Linked DNA regions of Homo sapiens. The protein of the gene in region 1 interacts with the protein of each later gene in a biochemical or structural test. Each region holds a gene or a part of one and is shown in the gene's direction. Other genes may lie near its edges. The genes, in order: RALGDS, RRAS and MRAS.

The links.
Region 2: the proteins of RALGDS (region 1) and RRAS form a complex in vitro, tested with the Homo sapiens proteins (one study listed by BioGRID).
Region 3: the proteins of RALGDS (region 1) and MRAS form a complex in vitro, tested with the Homo sapiens proteins (one study listed by BioGRID).

The regions. Positions count from the first base shown.
Region 1 is NC_000009.12:133,111,172-133,118,309, reverse strand, and holds part of RALGDS (ral guanine nucleotide dissociation stimulator), read left to right. Parts: intron 1-6,157; coding exon 6,158-6,268; intron 6,269-7,138. UniProt on the Homo sapiens protein: Functions as a guanine nucleotide exchange factor (GEF) activating either RalA or RalB GTPases and plays an important role in intracellular transport. Interacts and acts as an effector molecule for R-Ras, H-Ras, K-Ras, and Rap.
Region 2 is NC_000019.10:49,637,040-49,644,156, reverse strand, and holds the start of RRAS (ras-related protein R-Ras), read left to right. Parts: upstream 1-4,013; 5' UTR 4,014-4,058; coding exon 4,059-4,211; intron 4,212-7,026; coding exon 7,027-7,114; intron 7,115-7,117. Other genes in the region: SCAF1 (splicing factor, arginine/serine-rich 19), read right to left, coding at 3,632-3,634. UniProt on the Homo sapiens protein: GTP-binding protein with GTPase activity, likely involved in the regulation of MAPK signaling pathway and thereby controlling multiple cellular processes. Regulates the organization of the actin cytoskeleton.
Region 3 is NC_000003.12:138,372,575-138,379,712, forward strand, and holds part of MRAS (ras-related protein M-Ras isoform 1 precursor), read left to right. Parts: intron 1-291; 5' UTR 292-309; coding exon 310-502; intron 503-7,138. UniProt on the Homo sapiens protein: Signal transducer in the Ras-MAPK signaling pathway that regulates cell proliferation and survival. Core component of the SHOC2-MRAS-PP1c (SMP) holophosphatase complex that regulates the MAPK pathway activation.

The DNA.
Region 1 (7,138 bases):
CTGTGTGCAGGTCTTCGGTTTAATCCCCAGGGCTCATGAGCACTTTGACACTGAAGACCCCAAGGCAAAGGGCCTGTCCCTGTGTGGGTGTGTGTCCCTGCATGCATGTGTACAGACTGTGGTCTTCCAGGAGAGCTTCCTGGGTGACTCTGAAGGGGCAGCCCCCAGGACCCTCAGGTTCCCCTCTTGCTCTACTCGGGAGGGTCCCCCAGAAGAGGGGGACCAGGCTGGCTGGTCCTGGGTCTTTGTTCCTTCTCCAGGCGGGGGATGCTCAGGCATGCTGGCCTGTTTCCCGGGAGGCTCAGGAATGGCCCTGGGAGATATCAAGCTGCTCGTTGCCAGAGCTGGGGTCTGATTCTTAACCTGGAAATTGGGCATTTCCAGGACCTGTCTGCGTTGCCAATGAGAAAAGAGTGGGGAGATTTATCACTGGCCCTCTGCAGGCAGGCTCTGAACGAGCCAGTGGAGCGGTTTCAGGAAGCTGCACCCAGGCAGTCAAGGACTGGTTCCCAAGAGCTGCTGGTTGGCCGCCCAGATGGCTCCCATGGCGTGGTGCCACCATGCTGTGGCCACCCAGTCCCAGGGTTGGACTTCCAGCCTTGCAGGCCCAGAATCACTGTGTTCCCAGATATACAGCAACAGCAGAGCAGTGTTCCCCATTTGATTGTTAAGGGGCAGACACTGATGCATGCAGCCTCATGCAGGACAAGCTGAGCTTTGAGCAGACCCAATTCTCCCAGTTCCGCACACCTTGGCTGCCCACGGGCGGGGGAGGCAGTGGGATGGCAGCCCAACAGTGGCTTGGCGGGCGGGGCAGGACACCTGCGTTGGAGGGTTTTGGCGTTTTCCTCCATGGGGAAGCTTGCATGCTTTGGCAGCCTCCCCTGTAGTCATTCCTGGAGACTTTTGTCCATCTCAACCGAGGGGCAGGGAGCCTGGGCTCTGGAGAGAAGAGAGCTATGCTGGGATGCCAGCTCAGCCCCCTAGCAGATGTAGACGTGCTCCTGAGCCTCAGTTTCCTCATCTGTAAAATGGACATGATGCCAGCTCTCCTGTTAGGGTTCTGGTGAGGACCCTCGAGTTAGACAAGAGACCTGAGGAGCAGCCTGCACAGCACTTGGCACAGTGGACAGGTAGCAGCTGCCACAATGAGGTTTTCTGATTAGGTGCCAGGGGAGCGGCCTGACCCTTCCAAGTGCCCTGGGCTCCTCGGGTGCGTCACCTGGCACCTTCAGCATGGCACTTCCCTGGCCTGGTGTCTTGTAGGCCTTTTGCCCAGGGCACGTCCACAAACCTCTCGGAGATGCAGGTGCTAGAAAGCTGGCCCTGCCACCCTCCCCTGCGAATTTGCTGTGTGACCTGAGGAAATCCTTCCTGTCTCTGGCCCCTCCTCCACATCTGTGCCACAAGGGGCTGGACTCTGCTCCAAGCCTGAGACCATGGCAGAGGCAGCGCCAGGCCTGGGTGGGTCCCAACAGGCCAGGGTTCAAATCCCTGTTCTGGCTGCCACGTCCTGGCTCCTGACCTGGGCGAGTTCCTCTCAGGCTGTTTCCTTGTCCATCAGGCAGGGCGTTAGGAGGATTAAACGTGATGGGTGTCCAAAGGGCCTTGCACCCAGGAAGTGCCCGCATGTGCTGGGCACTGTAGCTGGTTAAAGTTGGGGCTGCCCTGCACCCCCTTGGGACCAGCCCACCTTCCTCCTCAGCTGCCACCAGCCACGCCCCTCCCGGGCCTGGCCCTGTGTTCACCTGACTGTCAGGGGCTGGGCGTGGACAGGGACCCTGGATGCCCAAGGCTTGCGGCTGACCTGGAGGTCTGGTTCTCCCTCCTCCTGCTTGAGGCACGATTTTCCCATCAGTGAGTAGCAGGGCACAGGCCGGCAGGGAGGGTTTCTGGAGAGATGGGCCGGCCTTTGCGGGGCTCAGCACTGGTTGGTTCCCAGCCTCCACTTTCTGAGGCCAGGGAGCATCCTGGTGGGCAGGCACCGCGTGTCGTCCCGGTCTGAGGCCGCCTCTGTGGGCTGCCATGCCCAGGATCAGGAGTGTGGCCCACCCACACCCCGGGCTGGCCTCCTGTCATCTTGATGCTTTGTCTGTGCGCTGGGGATCAGGGTTGGGTCCACCCACCTGGAGCTGGAGGGCAGGCCCGAGGGCAGGAGGGTCACGGACACGGACACGAGGCCCTTGCGTTCCACCTCCCTTGATGGGGCTCATGGTCCGAGCTCATGACTTGAGAAGTCCTGGGCTCTCACCTCTGGCTCAGCCAGCACACGCCCCACCGGCTCCTGTCCTCGGGCATGGGTCCCCACCTCTGTAGGACGGAGAAGGGCACAGCAGCGTGGGCCCCGCACTGTCGCAGGAGCCTGGGCTCTGTAGAGAGCGAGCAGCCTTCTGTGATGCGTTTTACGTTTGGCTTCTGTATTGGAGCGGAAAGCTGAAGTCAGAAAGCTGCTCCCACCCACTGGGTTTCAGGGTGACTCAGCCTCTCTTTACAGTGTCCCTCGGCTAGGTCCCTGAGCCTTAGGCAGGCCTCAGACAAGTTTCCCTCAGGTTTTTACAGCCCAGCATCCGTCGCCGGCCCCAGGGGGATATGATGTCAGGTGTTGTCCGGTACCACGCCATCAGGTCCCAGTGCCGGTCACCGAGCTGTGTGCATTCTCTCTTGACCCCCACTGTTGCCTGTGACAGGTAGTGCTGCCCTCCCCAGATGACACACCAAGGCCGAGGGCCAGGGGCTGGGCAGAGCCAGCGAGAGACAGGGAGCTGCTGTCTGGTGGGCCAGAACTGTGAGGTGCTGGCAGGGGGGTGGCAAGCACCCCGGGGTGACCTCTGGTGACTGGGACCTGAGCAGCAGCTCAGAGGGGCTTGGGAGGTCCCCCAGGACAATCTCACGCACACGGAGGCTCTGCCGTGAGCCTTTCCACACACAGGCCCGGGGAGGACCAGGGGCGGAGCAGGCCGAGGTGCAGGCTAGAGCCCTCTCCTCACTCCGCTTCAGCCCTCAGCCAGGTCTCCTTGGGAGGGGCCGGTGAGTTCCTGGAGCCATCCATGGGGCAGGGGGCCACTAGCTACGGTTTCCAAGGAAAGGCGTCTGAGTCCGGAGCTGCACCAGAAGGCTGATGCTGGGAGGAGGTGCCGTTGGCCTGAGCGGGGAGATGGCAGGGCTGGGGCAGGCCCCGTAGGGTTCCTCAAGACCCTCACTATTCTACCCAGAGGGAGTCTGGGTTTGGCCTGTGGCTTCCTCCTTCTGTCAGCCAGGGACACGGCATCCTGCTGGCCTGTCACTCTGAGAAGGCTGATCAGGTGACACACTCACCAGACACCACCAGGCCCTGTTTCCCATCCTCATCTTCAGGGCTCTGGGCTGTGTCCCTGGAGACATTGGGGTGTGGGGGCCCCTGCTCACCGGGGACCCCATGCCACCCTCACTGCACTGACCCAAATGTTAGAAGGCCAGACAGTGTGTTTACAGGCACAGCTGCCGACTGGGTCCCAGAGCCCAGGGACATCAGCATGCCTGCTAGGGGTGGGACAGGAGTGTCCCTTGAGGACACAGCCAAGCACGTGGTGTTCTTTTCTCCTCCTAGCAGTCAGCTCATAGCGGCTGCCTGGGCACCTGCCCTCAGGGGAAAGCGTTTTCTCTGCATCAGCTGTTCACTAGGCCGTTCCTGCTCCTCCCGCTCTGAGCTCCCAGCCCGGCCAGAGTGCCCTGGGGCCCAGGCGCTGCCCAGATGGGCTGTCTGCTAACAGAGTGACCTAGGGTGGCCTGTGGGTGCTGGAACCCTGCCTTTCTTGCTGCAGAGGGTTCTGGGGCAGCTGCCAGGGCTGTTGGCTGCTTTCTTTCTCTGTCCTGTGAGGGGGCAAGGGATAGAGGCCTTACTCTGCCACTTTGTTCCCAGACCCCAGGGCAGCTCTCTCTGGAGCCTGCACCTCCACCATCTGAGCAGATGGTTTAAACAGCCCCTGTACTCCACGTAGCTCTATGGTCTGGTTCCATGCCTGCTGCTGCTGTGACGGGAAGCGACCAGAGAAGACAGGCCAGCTCCACGCGGGCTAGAGCGTCTCCCCGACTGTGTGACAGGGTGGCAACTCCCTTACCCCAAGCATGCATGGCTCTCAGTGTTGGGCCTGCATCCTTCCCCACCACCCGGCTGGCAGAAGAGGGCCCCCCGGGGGTGGGGGAAGGGTGCAGGGATCACATGACACCAAGCAGGGCTGGGCCAGCTGCTGGCCTGCCAGCTCACGGAGGAGCCGCTCTCTAGACCTGCTCAGGGACAGCCGAGGCCACCTGGCTTCAGCCCCTCCTGGGGATTGGCCTGCCTGGGGACACCTCTGTCCAGCAGGCACTGATGGTGCTCAGCCAGGACCTGGGTGCTGTGCTGGGCTCCCCCAGGGTTAATGTTTAGTCCCCTGTGGCGGGCTTGTCCTGCACGAGATCTCAGAGCCACTGCCGGTGACTTGGACACTCAGGATACTGTCTGCCTCCCAGCTGGTCCAGATGTGGCTAAAATCCCTGGGAGAGAGAGAGACTCCCAGCTGAGCCAACGGCCTTCACAGGAGGCAGTCTGGGACCCCTGAGGAGGCCCGGGTGGTTGGGGGCCCTGGTCGCTGTAACCTCTAATGCTTTTCTTTTCAAAGGAACAACTTTCTAGGCAGGGGAGAGATGTGTGAGTCAGGAAAAGGGGGGTGAGCGTATGTCTCTTTTCCTGTCAGTGGAAGGGCCAGACCTCCCCTGGCGGGGCTGTTTGTGGGGTGTGGGTGTGAGTGTGCCTGTGGGTTCCCTGCTAACTTCCAAGAAATGGGGCTGGCTCTCTGTCCAGAGGCGGTGGCGGTCAGGAGCCCGGCACAATGCCCGCAGCTTTCCTGTTGTACAAAGCCCAGCGTGGGAGGCGACCTCAGGTCGGAGGAAGTGGACTTCCAGGATGGCTCCTGGGCCTCTGAGGGTGCGCAGGAGGCAGGAGGCCAGGGTCCCGTCCACAGCATGCTGGACAGTCTACCTGGCTCCTGCTGGGGTTGAGGGAAGGGCCTGAGTCAGCACTGTCTGCCAGGCCTTCTCTGAGCTCCACGCCTACCTGGGCTGGGGCACTGACTGGGCGGTTAATGACCCTGGGCCAGGCCAGTACCTCTTAGCTCCTTCCTAACCTCTGAGGTTGATGTCCTTAACCCCCCGGCTCCTCTACCCGCTGCAAGCTCATTCCGTCCCTGGACAGAGCAGGTGGCATAGGGGGCTGTGAGGCCGGGGGTAATTGTGGCTAAGTGACCTAGGCCAGCCTGCCAGGTGGGGGAAGTCTGTCTCCTAAGACAACGGCCTTTCCTTACTGCCTGGGGCCAGATGCCCCCTTCCTGTTCCAGTCTAGGCCTGTGGTTTAGGGCTCTGTGGAACCCCAGCATCTGCCTGGATACCAGCACCGTCACCTCTCACACCCGTCCCCTCACGTGATGATGGTCAGGGAACTGGGAACTCCCATTGCCCAAGCAGGCACGAGGGCATGAATGAGCAGAGGGGAAGGAAGTGGCTGGGATGTGGCTGTCTGGGGTGCCCCACACCTGCCCAGACCTGGGCTGCCAACGCACCAGGGCTGGGCCCAGAGGAGCTGTGCGTTCCTGCTAGGTCAGCCAGGGCCCCCCAGGCTGGGTAGAGGAGGGGTGAGTGTGAGGATGCCCATGGGCCTCTGGCCCTGGGGAGGTAGGGGGACCTTCTCTTGGGGCATAGCCGCCTGGATGCAGTCAGCCGTGTCAGAGCCCTGGGGTCCCTGCCTCACCACTTACCCGAGGCAGCATGACCTTGGACCAGTTGTTCCTCTCTCAGCCTCCATTTACCCATCTGTGCAATGGCTGAATAACAGTCCCCTGTGTGGAAGGGGATGGCTTGAGGGTGGGTCTGTCCTGGGCAGGAGCAGAAGCCAGTTACTAGGGGATTGGAAGCCTGGTGGACTCATCATAATCACGTCCCAGGTCGTGGCTGGCCGGGTTGGGGAAGTGGAGTGCCGGGACAGTGGCTCTCGAGCTGTGATCTCATTCCACCCCAGGCTGTAGGTCTGTGCAGCCGCCAGTCTGTGCCCTATCTGGGAAACAGGTTACACAGGTGCATCCCCTGCACGGTGGCCAGGCAGGCCCTTGACGTCCCCGCGCCCGGCTGCCGGGCGTTGTCTTCACAGAGCTCCACGCAGGAGATCGGTGAGGAGCTGATCAACGGAGTCATCTACTCCATCTCCCTGCGCAAGGTGCAGCTGCACCACGGAGGCAACAAGGGGCAGCGCTGGCTCGGGGTGAGTGCGCTCGGGGTCTCCACTGGGAGACGCAGCTGGGGATCCCTCCCAGGACTTTTTCACTTGAGGGCCCCCAGTTCTGATCCCAAAGGAAACGGCCTTCACTCCCTTCCCGACCCCCACTGTCCAGCCCAGGCTTAATCGGGTTTTCATGTTTGACCTCCCTTCCCCGGGTGTGCAGCCATCAGCCTCACCATCCTCCATGCCTTCTCCCAGATGTGCACACCATCTGGAGTAGTGGGGCTGTCTTCACCCAAGGACAAAAGGGCTTCAGGCTGTTAGGTCTCTGCAAGTTGCCATCTCCCAGAACACATCCCTGGGGTTCCTCCAGGTTGAGAGCCGGGGCCTGACTCAGCTGCATAATATTCCAGAAGGGAGGCTGGAGCCACTGCCCCAGTTCAGCTCCTCATGACTGTGGGGCCACTGTGAGTCCTCTGAGGACACTTCAACAGTGCTGCAGGAGCCAGGCGCAGTGGCTCATGCCTGTAATCCCAGCATTTTGGGAGGCCAAGGCAGGAGGATTGCCTAAGGTCAGGAGTTTGAGACCAGCCTGGCCCACATGGTGAAACCCCATCTCTACTAAAAATACAAAAATTAGCCAAGCATGGTGGTGTGTGCCTGTAATCCCAACTACTTGGGAGGCTGAGACATGAGAATTGCTTCAGCCCAGGAGGCTGAGGTTGCAGTGAGCCGAGATCACACCACTGCACTCTAGCCTGGGTGACTGTCTCAAAACAAAACAAAACAGTGCCACGGGGAAGATGCTGTGCGTCCTAACGGGCCAGTCCCTCCCAGCCCCTGGATAAGCCTCTGTTTCCTCATCTCTAGAATGGGGATATTTTGTTAGAGCTCTCAGATGACGCTCTTCCC
Region 2 (7,117 bases), on another chromosome or scaffold:
AAAGCTTCAAAATCCCTAACCCACAACTCAGTATGCTTAATTGTAAATGCACGAAATAGGAGCATCTATCTCAGAGAATGGCTGTGAATACTCAAAGCCTGACTTCTGCCACACATTTAGAGCACCTCAAGTGCTCAATACGGATGAAGAGGAATGACACTATTAGCCCTTAACGCCCAGGTTTCCCCTACATCTGTCTCCTCGCTTCCCCCACAGCATGCCTGCAAAGACAAGGCCCTGGTCCTGTTCTAGATCCCATATAGATTTTCAAACCATGCCAAGCCTCCATATTCAGCCTCCCAGCTCCACCTAATTCCTAACTTCCTAAGACACACCCAACCCTGATAGTCTATTACATCCCAGCCTCTTTCACCAATACTCAATAAGCTCAGCCCCAGTTCCTGGCCCTGGAACTGCTCTCCAGCACCTCCCGGGGAAGCACATGCTACCTACAACAGTGACTGTCACATATCAGAAGCTTAATCAACATCTGCTGACTACAGGCTGAGGGATCCCCAAACCCTCTGCAGTATACAAAGATGCTTGCTTGCTCATTTAGAAAGCACCAGGCTTCGCAGACACACCCTCAGCTACTGAGATCTTCTGAACAGAAGAATGCTCTGCAGATACTGCTAGGTCCTATCTGGATCAGTGGTTTCCCCAACAACAGGGTCATATACCAGTTTAGTGCTTCACAAATAGCTTGTTTTAAAAAGTAAATAGAACAAAATAGTTCTTCACAGCACAGCACAAGTAGTAAGTGGAAATGTCAATTCGTGGAAGGTGAGTTAATGTTAATACATTATGTTATATAATGTTAAATACATTATGACTGTCTGTACCAGGTCTCAATGAAAAAATGTATCTTAATGCAGATCACGGTCAACATGGCCCAGGTTTCCCCTTGAAAAGCACTGTAATAGTGGGTCTAGATGACCCTCCAGACTCTTCCAGACTAATGTAGATTAATTCTAACTCTCTCAATAACCCCCAGGGTAATGCAGAATCTTAAAACATTTTTCATTTGAATTACTGTCTGAAGGGCAAGTATATCTAAGCTGGGCAAAATTTCCTCATTCTCTTTCCGTATTATTATTCGCCACAAGCTGCTCTGACCCCAAAGGCATTCGAATTTGCTCCAGGCATCAAAACTGCATTCCTGCAGTCACATTAAAGCCATCTAGATGGTTCCAGGTCCTTCTAACTGCCCCCAGCCTCCTGTCACCCATTATTAGACACTACCCATACCTTGGAGACCCCAGACCCTCAGTACATCTCAATATTTGGCGCCCTTCCCTGGTGGGCATAACCCAACCCCCTAGGGGGCCCTAAATGACTTCTTAGCCCTTGAACACTCCTTCTAGGCCTGATAAATGGCCCCAGACTTATGCAGACCAGTTGCATCCTCAGGCCAGCCCATGCAGACACTTTCCAGCCCTAAAAGACATACCCCAGGCCTCTAGATGGCTCTGAAGATACTCTTCAGGTCTTGCAGACCCTCCTTCACCCCTGGGACATATCTCAAGATCTCAAGATGGCCCCAGAACCCTCTAACCAGACCCTAGCCTCCGGTCAGCCCAAAAAGACAATCTACAGTGTCTACAGACACGATCCAGGCCAGCTGTGTGATGGAGGGCAGGCCTTAGGCTCGGTCTAGGCCCAGAGACGCCCCAAGTCCTCTCGGAGACGCCCCATAGACGCCCCCAGGAACCCACGGATGCGTCCCGGGGCCCTGAGAAGGCCCCCCTCTCGGCGCCAGGTTTCGCCGCAGCTGCCGGGCCCGAGACCGCCCCGAGAAGCCCTCTAGGACCCGTGGCTTGTGGGGAGGACCCCGGGACAACTAGCGACCCAACTCCGCCCCGCCCACCCCAATAGGCCCGAGCCCCGCGGCCCGGACTGCCGCCGCCATCTTACCCCGCCGCTCGGGCTGCGGCTCCGGCCCCGGCGCGGGGCGGGGCGGGCTGGGGCGGGGTTCGTGAGCAAAGGAGGAGAGAGGCGGAGCTAAAGCGCCGCCGAGCTTGCCGGGATTTCAAGTACCGAGCACGGCGACGTGAAGGCCGGCGGGAAGGCAACCGCACTCGGTTTCCCAGAAGCCAATGGGACACATGGGGCGGGGTCCGCGCGATGCACGCCGGGAGGCGTAGTCCGCGCACCGCCTCTGTCGCGCGGGGACAGCTAATGGGGTGAGAGGTGAAGTGGGCGGGGCCGCGGTAGCCCGCGATGACGCCCCACAGTGCCCTGCGCGCGCGCGGAAAGGGTGGCGGAACAGGAGGTGACGTAAGAGGCGCCAGGCAGAACAGACGCAAGGGAATTGTAGTCCGGCGGAGTGAGCACGACTTGCTGGATGTTGTGCTGCCCACATTCTGGGGCTCTCAGAATCCAGATCCTCTAGGCCCCCCTAAATTTAGAACCAGACGGGATGCAGTGGCGCACACCGTAGTCCCACTCGGGAGACTGAGGCGGAAGGATGGCTTGAGCCTAGAAGTTAGAAGCCAGCCTAGGCAATATAGGGAGACCCCGCCTCTAAAAAAATAAAAATAGGCCAGGCGCGGTGGCTCACGTCTGTAATCCCAGCACTTTGGGAGGCCGAAGCAGGCGGATCATCTGATATCAGGAGTTCAAGACCAGCCTGACCAACATGGTGAAACCCAGTCTCTACTAAAAATACAAAAATTAGCCTGGCGTGGTGGCTAACGCCTGTAATCCCAGCTACTCGGGAGGCTGAGGTAGGAGAATCGCTTGAACCCGGGAAGCGGAGGTTGCAGTGGGCCAAGATCGCGCCATTGCACTCCAGCATGGGCTACAAGACGGAAACTCCGTCTCAAAAATAAACAAATAAAAATAAACTTAGAACCTAGAAGCCCGACCCCATAGCCGCCTCGTTCAGTACAGAGAAGTCTGAATTCCGAATCCTCTCACTCAGAGCAGTGTCCAGACTCCTATTTCCCTCCTCCCTCCGACTCAGGAGTCTGATTCTTCCTTCCTCGGATCCAAGAGTCGGTCTCCCAGACTAGTCCTGGTCTCAAGCTCTCACATACGAATTCGGGTCCCCCCAAGCCAGTGCCCTCGCTCGGATCCAGAATCCTGGGTCCCCAGCCTCTCCAATTCCTGGACCTAAGAGTCCAGGCCCCCGGCTCCCTCCTTTACCGAACCTAGTACGAAGGAACCTGTCTACCTTCCTCCCTGACACCCTCCTCCCCAGGACCCAGGAGTCCACATCTCCAGCCCCATTTTCTCCTAAGGACCCAGGAGTCTGGGCCCTCTGCTTCCTTCTCCTTCAAGACCCAGAAATCCTGGCCCCAGGCTCTTCATGACCCAGGCATCCCTACTTGGGCGAGCTGGCTCATGGATTAGGAATGCAGTGATCTCACGGCCCCTCCCTGCCCCGTTACCCTGCTGTCCCCCTCTAGGGCCCCACTCTCCTCCCAGTCTGTCTTCCGCTTGGCTGGGACAGCGGGAACCGGAAGCCTGGGTCCCTTAGCGGGCGGAGACTCTAGCTTCTAACCCAGACGCCGGGGTCGAAAGCTTGGCTAGGATCCCAGGAGGGAGGTGGAGCTACTCCTCAAAACCTGCTGCTTCCTCGGAGCGCCCTATATACGGCCGCGCGCGCGAGTCGACGAGCTCCGCCTACCATACTAAGGCCTCGGAGACGATGCCCCAAGCAGCAGTGTCACAGGGGTCCTTATTTGCATAGCCCCTCCCCTGAGGAACTTTCCGCCCCGTCTGCTGAAAGAATAAATTCTTATTAGCATAGCCACGCCCACAGACCGCCCTCCCGCTGAGAGCGCGTGGCGCCGCTCAGGGCAAAGCACAGGTCTCTCATTAGCATAGCCCCGCCTCATTCGGAATTCCCCTTCGCAGCGAACGCCGTTCCCTTTCCCTTATTAACATAGCTCCTCCCTTTCTTTGGCCCGTCCCCCTCCTTAAGTGTCCGGAGACGCGAGCCCTCCTTGCCAGAGCTCATGATTATGCAGTAGCCTCATTAGCGTAGCCCGCCCCCCCGGGTCCCGCCCGGCTCCCCCGCAGGCGGTAGCGAAGGCAGCAGCAGCGGTGGCGACATGAGCAGCGGGGCGGCGTCCGGGACAGGGCGGGGGCGGCCCCGGGGCGGGGGACCTGGGCCCGGGGACCCCCCGCCCAGCGAGACACACAAGCTGGTGGTCGTGGGCGGCGGCGGCGTGGGCAAGAGCGCGCTGACCATCCAGTTCATCCAGGTAGTGGGCCCTCACCCGGGAGGGTGTCCCCCGGGACCCAGAACTGAGCCCTTGGGGGGATCCCCGAGACCCCTTTTCCCCCTTGACCCATCACTGAGACCCTCCTATAAGGCCCTCTAATCTTAAAAGATCCCCACAGATTGTAACCTAAACTCTTGGAGAGCCTCCATCCCCTGCACGGGGGACCCTTCCTTCTGCACTCGCATCCCGAGACCCACTATTCCCTCTCCCAGTGCCTAAGACCCCGCTTACCTGCTGACCTGGCTTTGAGCACCTCCTGGGAGCATGCTAAATACAAAATACTCACCCCATTCGGACCCTAAGCACTCCCAGGACCCCCACCACGCCCTTGGTGCCACCTTCCACCACCCTGAGCCCTATCTCCCCCAAATCCCAGTCCCCAACTTCCCCTCTAAGCCATTGAGAGCCTTCCTGGGAGAATGCCAGTGCCCAGCACCTTTGAGATTCCACCACGTTCGATTCTTTTTTTTCTTTTTTTTTTTTTTTGAGACAGAGTCTCACTCACTCTGTCACCCAGGCTGGAGTGCGGTGGAGTGCAGTGGTGCGATGTTGGCTCACTGCAACCTCTGCCTCCTGGATTCAAGCAATTCTCCTGCCTCAGCCTCCCAAGTAGCTGAGACTACAGGCGAGTGCCACCATGCCTGGCTAATTTTTGTATTTTTTAGTAGAGACGGGGTTTCACCATATTGGACTGGTCTCGAACTCCTGACCTCGTGATCGGCCTGCCTTGGACTCCCAAAGTGCTGGGATTACAGGCATGAGCCACCGTGCCCGGCCCCACGTTTGATTCTTAGCCCCTTCCATGACTGCCCCCAGAATCTAGAAATTCTACCCAGACCCTGGCCCTGAGACTCTTCTGGGACTACCCAGTCCTAAGAGAGTCCTGCTCTCCGACCCGAGATTTAAAAAGACATCCTGCCCCTTGGCCATTCCAGAAATCTCCAAGACCCCAAGTCCTGACAATCCCCCATTCCCGGAGGCCCAAACCTCCACTCTCCCACCCCACCCCCAAGGAAAACCAGCCCCTCCTCCATCCCATGCTTTCTCCGCTGCAACTCCCTGAGCCCCTCTCAGAAACCCTGAATAGCTCTCAAATCATCTCCATGGAAGAAGCCCCCAGATTCTTGGCACCCCCAGAAAGATCTATTCCTTGGGAGTTTCTCTGACCCCATAAATGAACTCAATGTTTCTAAGACTGTATATACTATAACCTCCCAAAACCCCTGAGCCACCTCCGGGCTGGCTCCCAGTTCTCAGCCCTGAGCTTCTCACGCTGTGCTCTGAGGTCACGCCCCTAACTACCCCCAGAGCCACAATCCCTCCCAGGGCTTGATCCTTACAGCCTCCCTCCAGGACAAGCCCCTCACCAAGCACCCCTCTAACCGACAGATGCAGCCTTCAGACCCCTAGCCTCCACATCACCCCCTTTCCTGAAATTCCACCCCAGCCCAGGAAACCTCCTCCCCATTCCTGAGGGAGGTCCTCCCAGCTTCAAAGAAATCCTAGAAAAGTGTCTTGGCCTGACATGCTACCGCAGAGGCCCCGGGGCCCCAGGACACCCCCCTCACCCCCACCAAGAGACCCCTTCAAGGGCCTGGGAGGAAGCCCTGCTTGTGTAGAGAAAGGCCCCAGCCCTGGGCCCCTTGCACCCAGAGGCAGTCCCAGAGCTGGCCAAAGGCTTGGCTGGCAGCGGGCAGGACCCAGGCAGGAAGGGAGGGGCTGGGGCCCGAGGGTGGGGCAGCCTCTCCGCAGCCGGATTGGAACCGGGACCTTCCCCTGGGAGGAGACGCTGGAGGCCGCCTGAGCAGGAGAAGGAGACGGGGGAGGAGGAGACGGGGGAGGAGGAAGAGAGGGAGGAAGCAGAAGAGGAGGGAGAGATATAAACAGGCAGTCTGGACAACAACGCCTCCGATAACTGATACATTCAATATTTAATGGGGTTTTGCTCCGAATCTTGCCAGTGCTGGATGGAGTGTAGTGCTGTTCTTAGCCTCCTTTTTCAAATGAGGAAACTGAGGCTCAGAGAGGGGAAGTGATTTGTTCAGTGTCACACAGCTAGGATGTAATCACGATGTGGGACATGTACCTTATACCAGAAAGAGAGGACCAGGAGTGACTCAGAGAGAAGAAGACTGGTAGGAGGGGTGGGGGGCAGGGAAAGGGGGGCAGGGGAGCAGCTACCCAAAGAGAAGGGGACAGAGACCCAGAGAGAGAGAGTAATAGAGACTCAGAGAGACAGAGGGGACAGAGACCCAGAGAAAAGGGGGCAGAGACCCAGCAACAAGGACAGACATCTGGAGAGAGAGAGAAGGACAGGGCAGGGCGCAGTGGCTCACATCTGTAATCCCAGCACTTTGGGAGACCCAGGCGGGCGGATCACCTGAGGTCAGGAGTTCGAGACCAGCCTGACCAACACAGCCTGACCAACACATCTCTACTAAAAATACAAAATTAGCCAGGTGTGGTGGCGCATGCCTGTAATCCCAGCTACTTGGGAGGCTGAGGCAGGAGAATCTCTTGAACCCAGGAGGCGGAGGTTGCAGTGAGCCGAGATCTCGCCATTGCACTCCAGCCTGTGCAACAAGAGCGAAACTCCGTCTCAAAAAAAAAAAAAAAAAAAAAAGACTCAGAGAGACAGACGGGACAGAGACCCAGAGAAAAGGGGGCAGAGACCCAGCAACAGGGACAGACATTTAGAGAGAGAGGGACAGAGACTGAGAGAGGCATCCCAAGGGCAGGGCTTCGTCCTGTCTGCCGGGGCACTGCAGTAACTATCCTCTCCCCACCCCGCCAGTCCTACTTCGTGTCTGACTACGACCCCACTATTGAGGACTCCTACACGAAGATCTGCAGTGTGGATGGCATCCCAGCCCGGCTGGACAGTG
Region 3 (7,138 bases), on another chromosome or scaffold:
GACATGGCTTTTGGCTATACTTGCTAAACAAGACCAGTGGTACTGTGTCCTCAACACCAGGCCTGGCACATAATTGGTGTTGAATAAATGATGGTTGAATAAATCACTTTAACAGTGGACTGTCTCTGGCTAGTGAGACCAGGGGTAATGCTTTTATTTTCTTTTGCATTTCTTCATTTTCAAACCTCTTTATAATTGAGAGTATTACTTTATAAAGGAGGAAAACATATGAATATTTTCCCCTAAGTTAAAAAAGCCCTCTGTCTCATTCCACATGTCTTGCTGCCGCAGGTCTGACCTACGAGAAACATGGCAACCAGCGCCGTCCCCAGTGACAACCTCCCCACATACAAGCTGGTGGTGGTGGGGGATGGGGGTGTGGGCAAAAGTGCCCTCACCATCCAGTTTTTCCAGAAGATCTTTGTGCCTGACTATGACCCCACCATTGAAGACTCCTACCTGAAACATACGGAGATTGACAATCAATGGGCCATCTTGGACGGTGAGACCTGGGTGGCAGCCCTGCATTGGGTGGGATAGTAGATGGGGAGGATCAGGGAAATTTGACAGGTTTCAGTGGGGCAAGATGGTTTCCTTAATGTTGCTGTTATGGGATGGTTGATATAAAGCCGTGTGTCGTTTTCAGGGTGAATTCTCAACAGGGAAGGCCTGCGTAGAGGGCTTGCAAGATTTCGTGGAAACCAAAATGTGCATTCAGCAAAGAGGGGAGGCTAGAATCATGCCAACTCAGTGATGTCATGTGTGTTTTTTCTTGCTGATCAGAATCTCTGATTAACAGTTATGGATGTCTTTAGCTAATAAAAAAGGGAAAAGCAAGTTGTTTCTTAATGAGCATAGTTTACTTGGTACTTGTCCTTTGAGGGGAATCTCTTGCATCTGACATTGTGTTTCTAGCTGAGTGTGAATTAGTCTGGATTACTAGTTCTAAGTGTGGCAGCCAGGCCAGCAGTAGCCGCAGCATCAGGAAACTAATTAGAAATGCACATCCTCAGGCCCATACTGATTTGGAAATTCTGAGGGTGGGCCCAACACCCTGTGTTTTAACACACCCTCGAGGAGATGCTTGAAATCAGGGAGTATTAAATCTTCAACTTCGTTATTTTTCAAAGTTGTTTTGACTGGTCTAGGTCCTAAGGTATTTCTATGTGAGTTTTAGCATCAGTTAAATTCTAAAATTCTAGATTTTGATTGGGATTGTGTTGAAACTGTAGATCTGTTTGAGGAGAGTTGATATTTTAACAATGTTGAGGCTTCCAACCCATGAACACAGTATCTCTTTCCATTTATTTATTTATTTATTTATTTATTTGTTTATTTGGGTCTTCTTTCTCTTGTCAGTTTTATTTGTAGGTTTTTTTGTTTGTTTGTTTGTTTTTGGGGGGACGGAGTCTCGCTCTGTCACCAGGTTGGTGGAGTGCAGTGGTGCAGTCTCAGCTCACCGCAACCTCCGCCTCTCGGGTTCAAGCAAATCTCTTGCCTCAGCCTCCCAAGTAGCTGGGATTACAGGCACGCACCACCACACCTAGCTAAATTTTTTTTGTATTTTTAGTAGAGACGGGGTTTCACCATGTTGGCCAGGATGGTCTCGATCTCCGGACCTCGTGATCCGCCTGCCTCAGCCTCAGCCTCTCAAACTGCTGGGATTACAGGCATGAACCACCACGCCTGGCTTATTTGTAGTTTTCAGTGCATAGGTCTTTTACATGTTTTGTCAGTTTTATACCTGTATCTGTATTGATGCTACCGTAAATTATTATTTTTGGTTTTTTATTTCAATTTTCAGTTGTTTGTTGCTAGTATATATAAAAACAATAGGTTTCTGTATATTAATCTTGTAACCTACAACTTTGCTAAACTCAGTTACTAGTTCTAGTATCTTTTTTGTAGATTCTGCTGGATTTTTCTGAATAGACCATAGTGACTGCAAGTAAAGACAGTTTTACTTCTTCTTTTCCAATCTGGATGGCTCTTATTTCTTTTTCTTGCCTTATCTCATTGATTAAAATCTCTGGCATCCTGTTGAAAAGAAGTAACAAGAACAGACATCCTTGTCTTGTTCTTGATCTTAAGGGGTAAGTGTTTGGTCTTTAGCATTAAGTATGATGTTAGTTGCAGGCCTTTTATGGATGGCCTTTATCAGGTCATGGAAGTTCCTTTCTATTTCTAGTTTGCTGAGAGTTTTTATCAGGCATGGATGTTGGATTTTGTCCAGTGCTTTTTCTGTGTCTACTGAGATAACCAAATGGTTTTCCTTTTTTAGTTTGTTAATGTGGTAAATTACATTGATTGTTTTGTTTTGTTTTTGTGACAGAGTCTTGCACTGTCACCCAGGCTGGAGCACAGTGGCATGATCTTAGCTCACTGCAACCACAAAATACTGGGCTCAAGAGATCTTCTTGCCTCAGCTTCCCCAGTAGCTAGGACTGTAGGCACACACCACTGTGCCCGGCTAATATTTTATTTTTTTGTGAAGATTGGGGGGAATCTCCCATTGTCGCCCAGGCTGGTCTTGAACTCTTGGCTTCAAGCAATCCTTCCATTTCAGCCTCCCAAAGTGCTGGGATTACAGGTGTGAGCCACCATCCCTGGTCCTTGATTTTTTTAATATTAAACCAAAATTGCATCCCTGGAATAAACCCCACTTGGTCATGATGTATTATCCTTTAATATTGTTGGCTTTGATTTGCTAAACTTTTGTTTACAATTCTTATGTCTGTGTTCTTGTGAAATATTGGTCTATAGTTTTCTTGTAATGTCTGTGTCTAATTTTGGTATCAGAGTAATGTTGGCCTCATAGAACGAGTTTTATTCAATTTTCTGGAAGAGTTTGAGTTAAATTGGTATTTCTTCCCTAACTGTTTAGTAGAATTCACAAACAAGGCCATCTGGCCCTGGAGTTTTCTTTGTGGGAAGATGTTTTTGTTTTTGTTTTGAGACAGGGTCTCGCTCTGTTACCCAGGCTGGAGTGCAGTGGCATGATCAAGGCTCACCACAGCCTAGACCTTCTGGGCTGAAGCAGTCCTCCCACATATTTTGTCTGTCTGTTGGTTGTTTCAGCTGAGAACGTAAATCTGGTCCCTGTCACTCCATCTTGGCCAGAAGCAGAACCAAATCATGACTTCAAAAAAATACAACTTTGTGGCTGGGCGCTGTGGCTTACAAGGCCTGTAAATCCCAACACTTTGGGAGGCTGAGGTGGGCAGATTGCTTGAGCTCAGGAGTTTGAGACTTGCCTGGGCAACGTGGTGAAACCCCATCTCAACTAAAAATATAAAAATTAGCCTCGGGTGGCTGAGGTGGGAGAATCACTTGAGCTCAGGAGGCAAAGATTGCAGTGAGCCGAGACTGCGCCACCTCACTCCAGCCTGGGCAACAGAGTGAGACTCCCTCTCAAAAAAACAAAACAAAACAAAAAAACTTTGTAAATATGTTTTAAAAGCACTGAATTATATACTTTTAAAGTATTAATATTATGGCATGTAGATTGTATCTCAATTTTAAAAAGCACCGTCCTCCAAGGGTTTGTCTGCAGCCCTGGGACTTTGAACAATTTGAACAGGTACCAAGCACCTTCCCATCTTGGGACTTTGCATTTTGTCTTCTCTCTGCCTAGAACATTGTTCCTGCAGAAACACTGATTTCATTTAGGTCTCAGCTCAAATGTCACTTTATCTAAGAGGTCTTCCCTGACCAAACCATTGACACTAGTATCCACCCCACCCCAGTCATTTCTATGCCCAACTCTGTTCTTCTTTATTCTGCCTTTTATGGTTGGACATATTTTATCTTTGTTTGTGTTTTTGTCTCTGCTGACTAAAATATAAATGTCTGAGAGCAGGGACTTTATTTACTGACTGCATTATTCCTAGCATCTAGAATACTGCTTGGCTCATAGTAGCTCCCCAGTAAACATTTGTGGAATGACCAAATGAAAGAATAAACCTTGAACAATATATGTGTAGTGAAAGGTTTGATGTGCTAGCTATATTATTTTTTTCTAACTCACATTACAATAATAAGTATATATAACTATTAAAATTAAAACTTACATCTGTGCACTTTCTAAAATCATTTCATGCATCACCTATTGGAATATATGGCACACTTTGGGATATACTGAGTTAAATAAATGTAAACAAGTTTCTTCACTGCAGGACTTACAAGAACTTTTAACATGCAAACACATATTAGAGGTGTAGTGATAGGATACATTGTCCTTAGAGCTTCCCACAGGGGTCATTTTTTGCACGTGATTCTGAACTATGTTCCATAGAGAACATTCTGAAACACATTGCATAATGCATGTAAGAAAGTAACACCATGCCTGGTACATCGTTGGAACTCAATCAGTATTTCTCTCTACAGCCATATAAACTTCTCTGACTTTTTCCTGAGTACCTTTGGATGTTAAATTGGTTTCTGAGGAAAAATGTTTTCCTCAAGATTGAATGTTTTCCTCAACATTTATAGCAGGAGCAGCAGGGAGAGGGGAAACATGGCCGCAGCATTATATTAGAAGTGTGCATTTGCAAAGCCTGTGTTCTGAATGCCTGGGCTCTCCATGGCATTACTTTAGAAGAATGAGTTTGTTAAGCTTCTAATTCTGCCACCAGAGTCAGGCCCGATTTAGGGCATTGCCCACCCAGGCCTTCCTCGGGAATAGACACCAGATTCCCAGATTAGATGCTTCTCCACTCCATTAGATCTGCTATTAAGAAAAGGAAGACTTGGCCGGGTGCGGTGGCTCACGCCTGTAATCCCACCACTTTGTGAGGCCGAGGTGGGTGGATCACGAGGTCAGGAGTTTGAGACCAGCCTGACCAACATAGTGAAACCCCGCTTCTACTAAAAATACAAAAAAAATTAGCCAGGCCTGGTGGCGCCTGTCATCTCAGCTACTCGGGAGCCTGAGGCAGGAGAATTGCCTGAACCCAGGAGGCGGAGGTTGCAGTGAGTAACTCTGAACCTTTCTGGGGCTGAACTTTTCTGGAGTGGTCTGCACCCCTCAGATGGCCAGGACTTCCCTGGGCATCTGGATCCCAGGGGTCCTGCTCCCCTGAGGCCATGCCATCTTCGGGGAGGTGCTAAGCCTGGAGGTGCCCTCAGTTGCCCTGTACCCCACTGAACTCCAGGGGATCTCAACTCTGCAGTTTCTCTTCTTCCAAACTCAGAAAGAATAAAAACGTGGCAGCACGATGATGAGGAGAAGGAAGAGAATGATAATTTTGATGACGGGGTATTGAATGGGCAGAAACTGTGTGGAAGGCCCGTGCTAAGCACATTGCATTTGCTGTCTTTGAATCCTTACAAATGCTATCGTGGTAGTTGCTGTTGTTATTTCTGTTTTATAGTTGAAGAAAATACAGCAAAAGTTTCACACAACCAGCAACAGTTTGAGCTACCTGTTGACTCCTACCCACTGTCAGTCTGGTTGTGTAGGAAAATCCTCCCCCACAGCACAGTGGATCCTTGTGCCTCTGGGAAGGGGAGCTGAAGTCCCAGGAAGAAGTGGGTGTGGCTGAACTATCATACCTCTTCTGCCCTTCTTACTCCTCACCCAGGGTCCTTCAGAGAACCAGGTGCTCCGGTTGTGATCTCAGTCTCACGTCAGAGATTTGCAAGCTGCTTAAGGAAGCCTTCTCTGTGACTTCCACACTGATTATTCTCACAGGCTGCCTGCTTTCTTGCAAACCTGTTTCTTGTTTTCTTCCAGGAAGTCACATTGCCTGTGTCCTCCCAGAACCTAAGAGACAAGAGCTGGCTGGCCTCAGGGGCCAGCAGCCAGGCTCTCCTGTGGCTGTGGGACCCCCAGGCTTTGGAGCAAGCCTGCTCTGAGTTCTTTCCTGCAAGGGTTCGGGATCCTCATCTCACTTTATATTGTCAAGGGCCCAACCCTCGGAGCCTCTCTTCCTCCCCGTCTGGTCCCTGCTTCTCCACTGTGGGGTTTGCTTCGGCTGTCCCATCTCCATGCTCTCAGCCCTCTCCTCCTGTCTCTGACTTTGGAACACCACCTCACCTTGGCTTTCAGCTGTGTGACTGCCCTCACCCCAATTCTCTCTTGTCATGAATCAGGAAGCCCCAAACCTTCGGCAGAGCCATAGAGTTTTGTGTTTGTTTGTTTTATTGTGATAAAGTGTACATAACATAAAAGTTACCATCTTAACCATCTCTAAGTGCATAGTGCATTCACTTTGTTCTACAACCATCCCTGCCATTCATCTCCAGAACCTTTTCACCTTCCTCAACTGAAACTCTGTACCTATTAAACACTGACTCCCCATTCTCCCCTCTCCTCAGTCCCTGGCAACCACTATTCTGCTTGCTCCCTTTTCTTTTATTGATATCATATTCATACATATTTTGAGGGCATGGTAATGATCAAATCCAGGTAATTAGCATATCCATCACCTCAAACATTCTTTCTTTGTATTGGGAACATTACAATTCTTCTCTTCTAGCTATTTTGAAATTTGCAATGAATTATTGTTAACTATAATTTCCCTACTGTGCTATCAAATACTAGAACTTATTCCTTCTCTTTGTATTTCTGTACCCATTAACCAACTTCTCTTCATCCCCCCACCCACACACCCTTCCCAGCCTTTGATGTCAATCATTCCACTCTCTACCTCCATGAAATCCACTGTTTTAGCTCCCACATATCAGTGAGAGCATGCAATATTTGTCTTTCTGTGCCTGGCTTGTTTCACTTAACATAATGACCTCCAGTTCCATCCATGTTGCTGCAAATGACAGAATGTCTTTTTTTTTTTTTTTTTTTTTTTTGAGACGGAGTCTCACACTTGTTGGGCAGACTAGAGTTCAGTGGCACGATCACTGCAACCTCCCCCTCCCGGGTTCAAGCAATTCTCCTGCCTAAGCCTCCCAAGTAGCTGAAATTACAGGCACCTGCCAACACGCTCGGCTAATTTTTGTATTTTTAGTAGAGATGGGGTTTCACCATCTTGGCTAGGTTGGTCTCGAACTCCTGACCTCAGGTGATCTGCCCACCTCGGCCTCCCAAAGTGCTGGCATTACAGGCATGAGCCACTGCGCCCAGCCTCATTCTTTGTTATGGATGAATAATATTCTATTGTGTATATATGCTACATTTTCT